2 separate regions of the Homo sapiens genome follow, and region 2 is linked to region 1. Evidence: fine-mapped expression QTL. A gene starts in region 1. The other region holds a variant in brackets. All regions are shown on one strand. Distances are between the middles of the regions.

Evidence for each region.
Region 2: its variant is fine-mapped to the expression of SDHC in whole blood (INTERVAL, PIP 0.97).

The regions. Positions count from the first base shown.
Region 1 is chr1:161,311,694-161,317,072 of GRCh38, forward strand. SDHC (succinate dehydrogenase complex subunit C) reads left to right here and starts at 2,688. Exons shown (of 6, transcript NM_003001.5): 1 at 2,688-2,732. The coding sequence starts at 2,713. RefSeq lists enhancers at 2,264-3,027, 4,554-5,315 and silencers at 2,579-2,638, 2,669-2,738.
Region 2 is chr1:161,415,297-161,420,675 of GRCh38, forward strand. It overlaps the pseudogene COMMD6P1. Among named protein-coding and RNA genes, the nearest start is that of TRE-TTC4-2, 4.2 kb to the right of the region's middle. The variant T/C (reference allele first, on the strand shown) is at 3,083.

The DNA of each region.
Region 1 (5,379 bases):
CAGAGCTGAGGTTTTTTTGTTTGTTGAGGCAGTCTCGCTCTGTTGCCCAGGCTGGAATGCAGTGGCATGATCATGGCTCACTGCAGCCTTGACCTCTGAGGCTCAAGCAATTGTCCTACCTCAGCTTTCCAAGTAGCTGGGAACTACAGGCGCATGCCAGCATGCTGGGCTAGTTTAAAATTTTTTTTTTTTTTTTTTCAGAGATAAGGTCTTGCTCTGTGGCCCAGGCTGTAGTGCAGTGGTGCAATGATAGCTCACTGCAGCCTCAACCTCCCAGGCTCAAGCGATCCTCCCACTTCAGCCTCCAGATTAGCTGAGCCACAGGCAGCCACCACCATACCCAGCTAATTTTTCAATTTTTTGTAGAGATGAGGATCTCACTGTGTTGCTCAGGTTGATCTTGAACTCCTATACTCAAGTGATCCTTCTGCCTTGGCTTCCCTAAGTACTGGGATTACAGGTGTGAGTCACCGTGCCTGACCTCTAGAAGTTAATGTAAGTGGGGTGGTCATTGTTATTCCTGCTATGAGACCACTGCAGGCTCACCCAGGTGAAGGACAGTGTCCTGGTACCTTCCTGGCATCTCATTAGACCACAGCCCTGGTGGGTATGGTCATTAGTATTAGATTTGGGTTGTGGAATTCTAAATATGGGATTGCTTATGAAGTCCATAGGCAAAACCATCATCATTGACAAATGTTTACAGGATGTTGTAGTCAACATTTCTATAAAACAGCAATTCAAAGTACAAAAAAAAAAAAACCCCCAAAACTCTCCCCTCCAAAATTTCCACCTAACTCCACCTCCCAACTGTAAGCAATCATTTCCTCTTTATCTAACCACCCCTTTTATCAACACCCTCTTCAATGGGTTGTTGCTACTTTCTTTGTTGCATGTCTTTATTGATCCTGCTAAGGCTATAACCTTCTTGGGGACAGTACAAACATCTGTATCTTTGAATCCCCTACAGAACTTTTCACGGACTGACAAAAAGTCCATAACTACATGCTAAATGAAATTATTAATATTTAAAGAGCTGAGTGGGCTGGGAGTGGTAGCTCGCACCTATAATCCCAGGACTTTGGGAGGCCGAGGCCGGTGGATCACTTGAGGTCAGGAGTTCTAGACCAGCCTAGCCAACATGGTGAAATTCCATCTCTACTAAAAATACAGAAAATTAGCCGGGCATGGTGGTGCAGGCCTGTAATCCCAGCTACTTGGGGGGAGGCTGAGGCAGGAGAATCGCTTGAACCTGGGAGGCAGAGGCTGCAGTGAGCTGAGATAGCGCCACTGCACTCCAACCTGGGCGACAGAGTGAGACTACGTCTCAAAATAAAAGAAAAAGAAAAAGAAAAAGAAAAACCAAAAAAGATCTGAGTGAAAAAGGCATTCCTTGGGTTTGTTAACGTGAAGCTCCAGAGAGCCAAGTCAATGACTGGAATTTCGATAGCACAAAACTGTATTTAAATATAATAACTAACGAATAAGTTGTTCATTAAATAAAACTTGTTGTTTGAGGTACCCATCATTGAATATGGGGGGGTAGAGTCTTGAAGATCAGCTGTTATGGGTGTTGCAGAGGAGATCCCTGCATAGATAGTAGATTGGATTAGAGAGCCTCTTTCAATCCTAAAGTGTACGAATGTGCTTTGTCAAGCATTATAGAAATGCAAAGTAGTATTATTCATCTGATGCAGAAATAAGTGAATTTGTGCTATTTAAATCCTGAAGTGCAGGGATGCTAAATATACATAAGATCTGAATATTAATATAATTGAGTATTTTTTTTGTAGAAATAGGAGTTGCTCTAGCCTGTCCCTTTTACTCCTCTCCACCCTACTCCCCACAAGAGTCAAGAACTTTTGTGCTCTGTTCCCTTCCTTTATCATTTGCTCTTCTTCTTTCTTCAGTCTTGAGTGCTCGGCAGTTGATTCCTGTGCTTGGGTTCCCTAAAACTGTATATATATATATACACATATATAAATCAAAGCGTGTTCTTCCCCTCACTCCGGGTTCTTCTAGCTGTGGGTGTCACCCACATAGCGCTGAAACAACGAACAAGGGAGCATTGTCCTCGGCTAGTGGGCGCCTGGTCCATGTGGCAGCTCAAACCCAGGAATTGTGGGGTCTAATCGAGGTGGTTAGATGAGGCTCCTCGTTTTCGGGAATGGTGGTCCGCAAGGTCTTCTCGAGGCCCCTCTACACACTCCCCAACTTAGGTCACAATTTATGTATCTGTCTGGTTAAAGCTTCGTATTAGAAAGGGAGGGAACCCAAAGTATCTTTTCTCTTCGGGGTCTCAACCGGCCAACCACCACGTTTTTAGGCCGACCTGGGAGGCAGGGGGAACGCAACAGACTGCGAAGTCCTTAAGGAAGAATCTAAACAAGTCCGCCGTTTGCTGTTTGGGAGTGCGATACAAAATGAATATGTACGCAGGTGGAACGTAGACTGCAGATTTTGAGCCAGCGGCGTTTCTGCCGAAATCCTGGCAAATTCCGGTAGAAGTCGGCTGCAGGAGGCGGAGGAGGAGACTAAAAAACCAGAAAACAACCAGCAAACCAGCTAGGCAGAGCTGAGCGGAGAAGCTCCAGAGCCTTTTAAAGAGACTCTCGTCACATGACACCCCCAACCCCGACCCCCAGCCGGCGCGCCTCCGCCCTCGGGTGGCGGGGCCGCCTGGCGTCACTTCCGTCCAGACCGGAACCCAAGATGGCTGCGCTGTTGCTGAGGTGACTTCAGTGGGACTGGGAGTTGGTGCCTGCGGCCCTCCGGAGATCTGAACTGGCCCCTCACGTTTTGCTGATAACTGTTTATCCTGTGCCTGGGCAGGGAAAGGACCCATGGGTGTGGAGGCCAAGCGCTCGGGGATCCTAGAGACCCCTTTTCCCGTCCCCCCCAGCCGCTCCGGTGCGCTCCGTAGGGCTTCGGGGTCACTGACTTCGTATCGAGGGGCCCTCGGCTCTCGCCCCTTCTGTTTTCCCCACCTCCTCTAGTACTTCTAACGCAAATTGCTCTCGGGCCTGCACCCAGAGCCGAGCTCTGAGAAAATAACTTCAAGGTCAGCCACCCATGGGTCCTACGATTTCGAGAGCGTATTTAGACATTTAGCTTCGGAGAGAGAGATCTTCGTGTATTTTGCCTTTGCTTCGAATGCCTTCAGACACTAGCTGCTCCCACCGTGAGTGGGCGCTGTCTGGGTTCCCAGCGGGCTGCTGGCAAAGGGTGGATCCCTACTGGGGTGGCGATTAGCATTAGCACCCAGGGCGGACCTCTGCTGCCCCAGAGCAACCCGGGGAATTCATTTTTAGTTAATCATTTTACTTGGGAGGGAGAGTGAGTGTCCCAGTTTTTCTCTAAAATGTGAATTAGTTGTCCAGAGAAATACCCTAGATTTTCTTTCATTCTGAACTTTCCGCTGTCTAGGTCTCATTCTCTGCTCAGCCTCTCTAGTCACAGCGACTAGCGCCTTTAGACACGCCTGGTACAAATCCCAGCATAGTTTTGTGCCAGCCTTATTTTTGGAAATTGTTTGTTATGGAAAGTTAGCTTCAATGCTGTTGAGATTTCAATCCCTGATTTCCCCAAATGTGTTCTCATTTCTCTTTCCACTTCAGTCACCCAGTTTAAAAATAGAGGGACTTTGTTTAGTTTTTCTGTGACAAAATGATTCCTCTTGGAGTTGAAATCAGGGTTATCTTAATCCTTCATTTTCTCCCTGTTTTTCATCTCCATATGTATCTTCTGTCTAAGGTATGCCAAGGCTTGTCTTGCCAGTGCTGTCTTCTTTATTCCAGATGGTTTGACCATAATTGAATGCTTTTGAATTCTCTGATATATTTTGGTATCGATGTTAGGGGCTTTTGGTAAAATTAACATTTAGTTTGAAGTGATCATATTGGTTCCAAACAGTTCATTTTAGGAGTTTTGGAATTAGTGTTTAAAAGCTGAGGATCATTATAGTCATTAAGTGTATCCATACAGTATCATTTTGAGTTGTGCAGCGCTGTCCACTGAAGGGATGGGTCGCCCCTCCACACCTGTGGGTGTTTCTCGTTAGGTGGAACGAGAGACTTGGAAAAGAAAGAGACACAGACAAAGTATAGAGAAAGAAAAAAGGGGGCCCAGGGAACCGGCGTTCAGCATACAGAGGATCCCCGCCGGCCTCTGAGTTCCCTTAGTATTTATTGATCATTATTGGGTGTTTCTCGGAGAGGGGGATGTGGCAGGGTCATAGGATAATAGTGGAGAGAAGGACAAAGGTCTCTGCATCATAAGGTAAAGAATTAAGTGGTGTGCTTTAGATACGTATACACATAAACATCTCAATGCCTTGAAGAGCAGTATTGCTGCCCACATGTCCCATCTCCAGCCCTAAGGCGGTTTTCCCCTATCTCAGTAGATGGAATATACAATCGGGTTTTACACCGAGACATTCCATTGCCCAGGGATGATCAGGAGACAGATGCCTTCCTCTTGTCTCAACTGCAAAGAGGCGTTCCTTCCTCTTTTGCTAATCCTCTTCAGCACAGACCCTTTACGGGGGTCTGGGGGACGGTCAGGTCTTTCCCTTCCCACGAGGCCATATTTCAGACTATCACATGGGGAGAAACCTTGGACAATACCTGGCTTTCCTAGGCGGAGGTCCTTGCGGCCTACCGCAGTGTTTTGTGTCCCTGGGTACTTGAGATTAGGGAGTGGTGACGACTCTTAATGAGCATGCTGCCTTCAAGCATTTGTTTAACAAAGCACATCTTGCACAGCCCTTAATCCATTTAACCCTGAGTTGACACAGCACATGTCTAAGGGAGCACAGGGTTGGAGGTAGGGTTACAGATTAAAATGGAGTCTCTTATGTCTGCTTTCTATACGGACACCTTAACAATCTGATCTCTCTTTCTTTTCCCCATAGTCCACACTAGGATTCAATGCCAAGAAAGGTATATTTTTCATTAGTGGTAATCTGAAGCTCTCGTGGAAAGGACACCTCCATTTCTCATAAGGGATTTTTTTAGGAGGATAAATGAGGAATTAAAAATTTTTTTTTTCTTGATAGAAGTTCCCAGTCTAATTCCATTTCACTAGAGGGATTTGGAACTGTTTATAATGTGCTGATTTAACCTCAAAGGAAAATACCTTCTGAGAAATCCTAGGAGCTGATTTCTGGTTCTACATTTATTTTGGACAAGTCAAGGTCATTGATTCCATGATTTTGGTTTCCTCATTTGTGTTGCAAACGGCAATAACTTGGGCCCACTTAAGAGAAATATTGGTTAAACTTTTCTTTTTGTTCTTTTTTTGGGGGTCTCTTTTTTTTTGGTTCTTTTTCTTTTTTTTTTTTTTGAGACGGAGTCTCGGTCTGTCACCCAGGCTGGAGTG
Region 2 (5,379 bases), 100 kb after region 1:
CGATACTCCCACCTCAGCCTCCTGAGTAGTTGGGATTACAGGCACTTGCCTTCATGCCTGGCTAATTTTTTTGTATTTTTGTAGAGACGGGGTTTCACGATGTTGGCCAAGCTGGTCTTGAACTCCTGACCTCAGGTGATCCACCTGCCTGGGCCTCCCAAAGTGCTGGGATTACAGGCATGAGCCACCGTGCCTGGCCTAATATTTTTAGAAATAATATGTATATTTAAAAAACAGACTAAATATACAAAACTGGGTGCATTGTAGGGGAGAGGAATTGGTGTAAGAATGGGAGATGAGGAGAAAATAATGAGACAATATAACAGAACAGGGATCTTACCCAATCAATGATTATAATGAGCAATAGGGCTGGGCGGGGTGGCTCATGCCTGTAATCCCAGCACTTTGGGAGGCTGAGAAGGGTGGATCTCTTGAGGTCAGGAGTTTGAGACCAGCCTGGCCAACGTGGAAAAATCCTGTCTCTACTAAAAATACAAAAATTAGCCAGGCATGACGGCGCATGCCTGTAGTCCCCACTACTCAGGAGGCCGAGGCAGGAGAATCGCTTGAACCTGGGAAGCAGAGGTTGCAGTGAACCAAGATCATGCCCTTGCACTCCAGCTTGAGTGACAGAGTGAGACTCCATCTCAAAATAAATAAATAATACATAAATAAATAAAGTGCAATAAACTGAGGGAGATGATTGAATCAATTTTGTGTGCCCGTGAGTGATAAGAGGGAAAAAAAGTGAAAGTATACAATACCTTTTGGGAGAAATAGAAGAGGACTGACTGGGGTGAAGATATTCACAACATAATATCAAAACTACTCCTACAAATCCATGAGACAAAGACAACTCAAGAAAAACATGTATTTTGGCCGGGCATGGTGGCTCACCCTTGTAATCCCAGCACTTTGGGAGGCCAAGGCGAGTGGATCACTTGAGGTCAGGAGTTCGAGACCAGGCTGGCCAACGCGGTGAAACCCCATCTCTACTAAAAAATACAAAAGTTAGCTGGGCGTGGTGGCTCATGCTTGTAGTCCCAGCTACTCAGGAGTTTGAGGCAGGAGAATCATTTGAACCCGGGAGGCGAAGGTTGCAGTGAGCCGAGATTGTGCCCCTGCACTCCAGCCTGGGCGACAGAGTGAGAATCCTTCTCAAAAAAAAAAAAGAAAAGAAAAAGAGAAAAATATGCTTTTTTGGCTGGGCGTGGTGGCTCACGCCTGTAATCCCAGCACTTTGGAAGGCAGAGGCGGGCGGATCATGAGGTCAGGAGATCGAGACCATCCTGGCTAACATGGTGAAACCCCGTCTCTACTAAAAATACAAAAAATTAGCCGGGTGTGGTGGTGGGCACCTGTAGTCCCAGCTACTCTGGAGGCTGAGGCAGGAGAATGGCGTGAACCCGGGAGGCGGAGCTTGCAGTAAGCCAAGATGGCGCCACTGCACTCTAGCCTGGGTGACAGAGCGAGACTCTGTCTCAAAAAAAAAAAAAAGCTTTATATATATATATAAAAAAGCTTTTATGTATATAAATATATTTTATATATATAATTTTATATTATATATAAAAATATATTTTTTATATATAAAAAAGCTTTATATATATATATATATATATATATATATATATATATATATATATATAAAGCTTTTTTTTTTGAGACAGAGTCTCACTCTGTCACCCAGGCTGGGTGTATATATATGTATATTCTCTCTCTCTCTCTCTCTCTCTCTCTCTCTCTCTCTCTATATATATATATATATATATATATATATTTTTTTTTTTTTTTTTTTTTTTTTTTTTTTTTTAGACAGTCTCACTCTGTCGCCCAGGCTGGAGTGCAGTGGCATGATATTGGCTCACTGCAACCTCCACTTCTGAGGTTCAAGTGATTCTCCTGCTTCAGCCTCCTGAATAGCTGGGATTACAGGCACAAGACACCATGCCCAGCTAATTTTTGTACTTTTAGTAGAGATGAAGTTTCACCATGTTTCACCATGTTGGCCAGGCTGGTCTTGAACTTCTGACCTTAAATGATCTGCCCACCTCGGCCTCCCAAAGTGCTGGGATTACAGGTGTGAGCCACCAGCCTGGCCTCTAGTTATTTTTTACATAATGTTCAGCATACAATAAAAATTAGGAGACATGTGAAGAGAAAGGAAAATGTGACCAATGGTCAAGAGAAAAAAGAAAACAGTAGAAGCAGAAACAAATATAAGCCAATTGTTTAAGTTCACAGGCAAGAACTTTAAAATAATCACAATTTTATTTTTAAAAAATAGAGGAAAAGATGGAAAGTAGATGAGAAGAATTTCAACAGAGAATTGGAATAGAGACAAAAACTTCTAGAACAGAACCCTCTGAATGGGTTTAACAGCAAATTGGACACAGCAGGAGACAAGATTAGTGAATTCAAAGACAGATCAATAGGCTGGGCACTGTGACTCACACCTGTAATCCCAGCACTTTGGGAGGCTGAGGCGAGTGAATCAGCTGAGGTCAGGAGTTTGAGACCAACCTGACCAACATGGTGAAACCCTGTCTCTACTAAAATACAAAATTAGCCGGGCGTGGTGGTGGGTGCCTGTAATCCCAGCTACTCTGGAGGCTCAGGCAGAAGAATCGCTTGAACCCGGGAGGCGCAGGTTGCAGTGAGCCGAGATCACACCATTGCACTCCAGCCTGGGCAATGAGTGAGACTCTGGCCTCAATACAGAAAGAAAGAGAAGGGAGGGAGGGAGGTAGGAAGGAAGGAAGGGAGGAAGGAACCAACCCATATTGAAGCACACACACGAGTTGAGCCTGAGACCTTGGTCAAGAACCAAACCTAACAATACTCTGGCTAAAGAGTGAGGGGACTGTGGGCATGGGGGAATGCCTCCCCACAGATTCCCATCCACGACCCTTGGCCTGATGACCACAGCATCTCAGTAATGCTTCTGTAGTCCAGTATCATTTCTTCTTTCTGAAATACATACATACATACATACATATATATATATATATATTTATTTATTTATTTGTTTATTTTTTGAGGCAGAGTCTTGCTCTGTCACCCAGGCTGGGGTGCAGTGGCA[T/C]GATCTCAGCTAACTGCAACCTCTGCCTCCCGGGTTCAAGTGATTTTCCTGCCTCAGCCTCCCAAGTAGCTGGGATTACAGGCATGCACCACCATGCCTGGCTAATTTTTGTATTTTTAGTGGAGATGGGGTTTCACCATGTTGGCCAAGCTGGTCTGGAACTCCTGACCTCAAGTGATCTGCCTGCCTCAGCCTCCCAAAGTGCTGGGATTACAGGCATGAGCCACTGCACCCGGCCTGAAATACATGTTTAAAAGAAAAATGTTGATCGTTTACTCAAAGGGGTAAATTAAGAATGGTAGTGAGCTCCTAATATCGCTAGCCACAATTCTCAAGGGAAGCAAATGGGGAGGCCAAACATCTGGTTGCTAACCTCATCAGCACCTGATGGGTAGGGAGGCTGCGCGAAGGCTGATGTCCACTGAGGAATTCTGAAATGCTCCTTAAGGGGACTAGGCCCACCCATGTTGAGAATCACTAATGTATACTTGTGTTTAATTTTTTCTCTATTTCTTCTTCTTTTTCTTTTTTTAAGAGATGTTATGCTATGCTACCCAGTCTGCTCTCAAACTCCTGGGGTCAAGCGATCCTCCTGCCTTGGCCTCCTGAGTACGTTTAATTTTGCCACGGAAACATGCAGTCTCTCAGGAATATTCTAAATCTAGAATGGGTGGATTAGCACAGTCATAGTATTAGTAATTAATAAAACTTTCCCCCACTTTGAAATCCTGAAAGTAGTTAAAATCATGGAGTTCTAGGCAGTCCGGTATTAGCAGCCCTTGACCTTTGCATTGGCAGCTGTCACCAGGTGTTTAATGTGGCTTATTAGGGAAGTCCAGAGCCAGCCAATACTTTACTGAGCTTGTAAACTCATAATCCGTTTAGATTTTTTTGTAAAATAAAAACCATATATCTATATGGTAACGAATTGGTTAATTGTAAGCCAGGAAATAAAATGTATAAACAAAAGTGAAGTGGTAACAAATTAGTTAAATGGCAGGGGGATCAAATCCAGATCTGTCAGGACAGAAGGGAATACTCACCAACTATGCTAATGAGGAAGGAGATGAATCTAAAGTCAACAACATCTCCTCTAACTGCCCACTTTTACACTGGGCCCAGATAGGTAGGAAGCATTGATTGCTCATGCCCCATTTGCTCCCAGGCCACCACCTAGTCTGACCCTTTGCTGGCAGGACAGAGCGAGAGGCCAGCATCAGAGTGGCCATTTGTGAAAATGCCAGAAACGTTGTCTACTCTCCACCCCACCCCATCTCCCACAAAACTCACCTGTGCCATGCAAGACTGTGGCAGATGGTTGGAATTCCAGGCGCTACTGCTCTTCATCCTTCTAGGGAGGCAGATGTCAGGGCAGAGGCCTGGGAAGTGTGAGGCTGCTGGATCCAAGAGTGGGGGCAGGTGGAGCAGAGGTGAGGTTTGGCCTTTTGGAAGCACTGGGTCACGAAAATCCAACCACGTGCTTTGACCAGATTCGTTTCCTGCTCAGATTCTGGATTGAGGAAGGCGGGGAGTGAGACCATGGCAAAGAATTGACTAGGAAGAAGCTGTCACCCTTGATGGAGTGGGCAAAGAGAAAAAGCAATCATTTGGGCATAGGGCCCAGCTGGACTCCTGGGTGGAAGGTGTGGCCTGGGTGTTCTTGGGTTCCTTGTCTGCTTGAGCCCCAGAACAATAGAAAATCTTGATGGCCACAGCAACAGGAGCTTAATAGTGGGAAGGAAGAAAAATGAAGGACAAAACCAAGACTTAAACTCCCACTGGGAAGTTTGAGAAAAAAGCCTTAACCACTATACCAAAAATGTACCCCAGGAAACTGATCTTACCTTCTGGTACCAGCATCAGCTACATAAATTGTCGGGTCTAGTGCAAAGTGAAAATGCAACCTCTTCTGAAAAAAGCAGCAAGAAAAGTGCTGTGAAGAGTAGTGAACTATAAAGCTTTTTCCTTTCTTCCATAGTCCTTCCTATGATGGGGCTTTTTATTTGCTCTTATTTGTCATTCTATGTAAAGAAAAATTAAGAATTTAAATAATTAGCATGATTTTTTTTTTTTTCCGAGACAGAGTTTTGCTCTTGTTGCCCAGGCTGGAGTGCAATGACACAATCTCGACTCACTGCAACCTCCACTTCCCGGGTTCAAATGATTCTCCTGCCTCAGCCTCCGGAGTAGCTGGGATTACAGGTGCCCGCCACCATGCCTGGTTAATTTTTTATATTTTTAGTAGAAACGGGGTTTCACCATGTTGGCCAGGCTGGTCTTGAACTCCTGACCTCAGG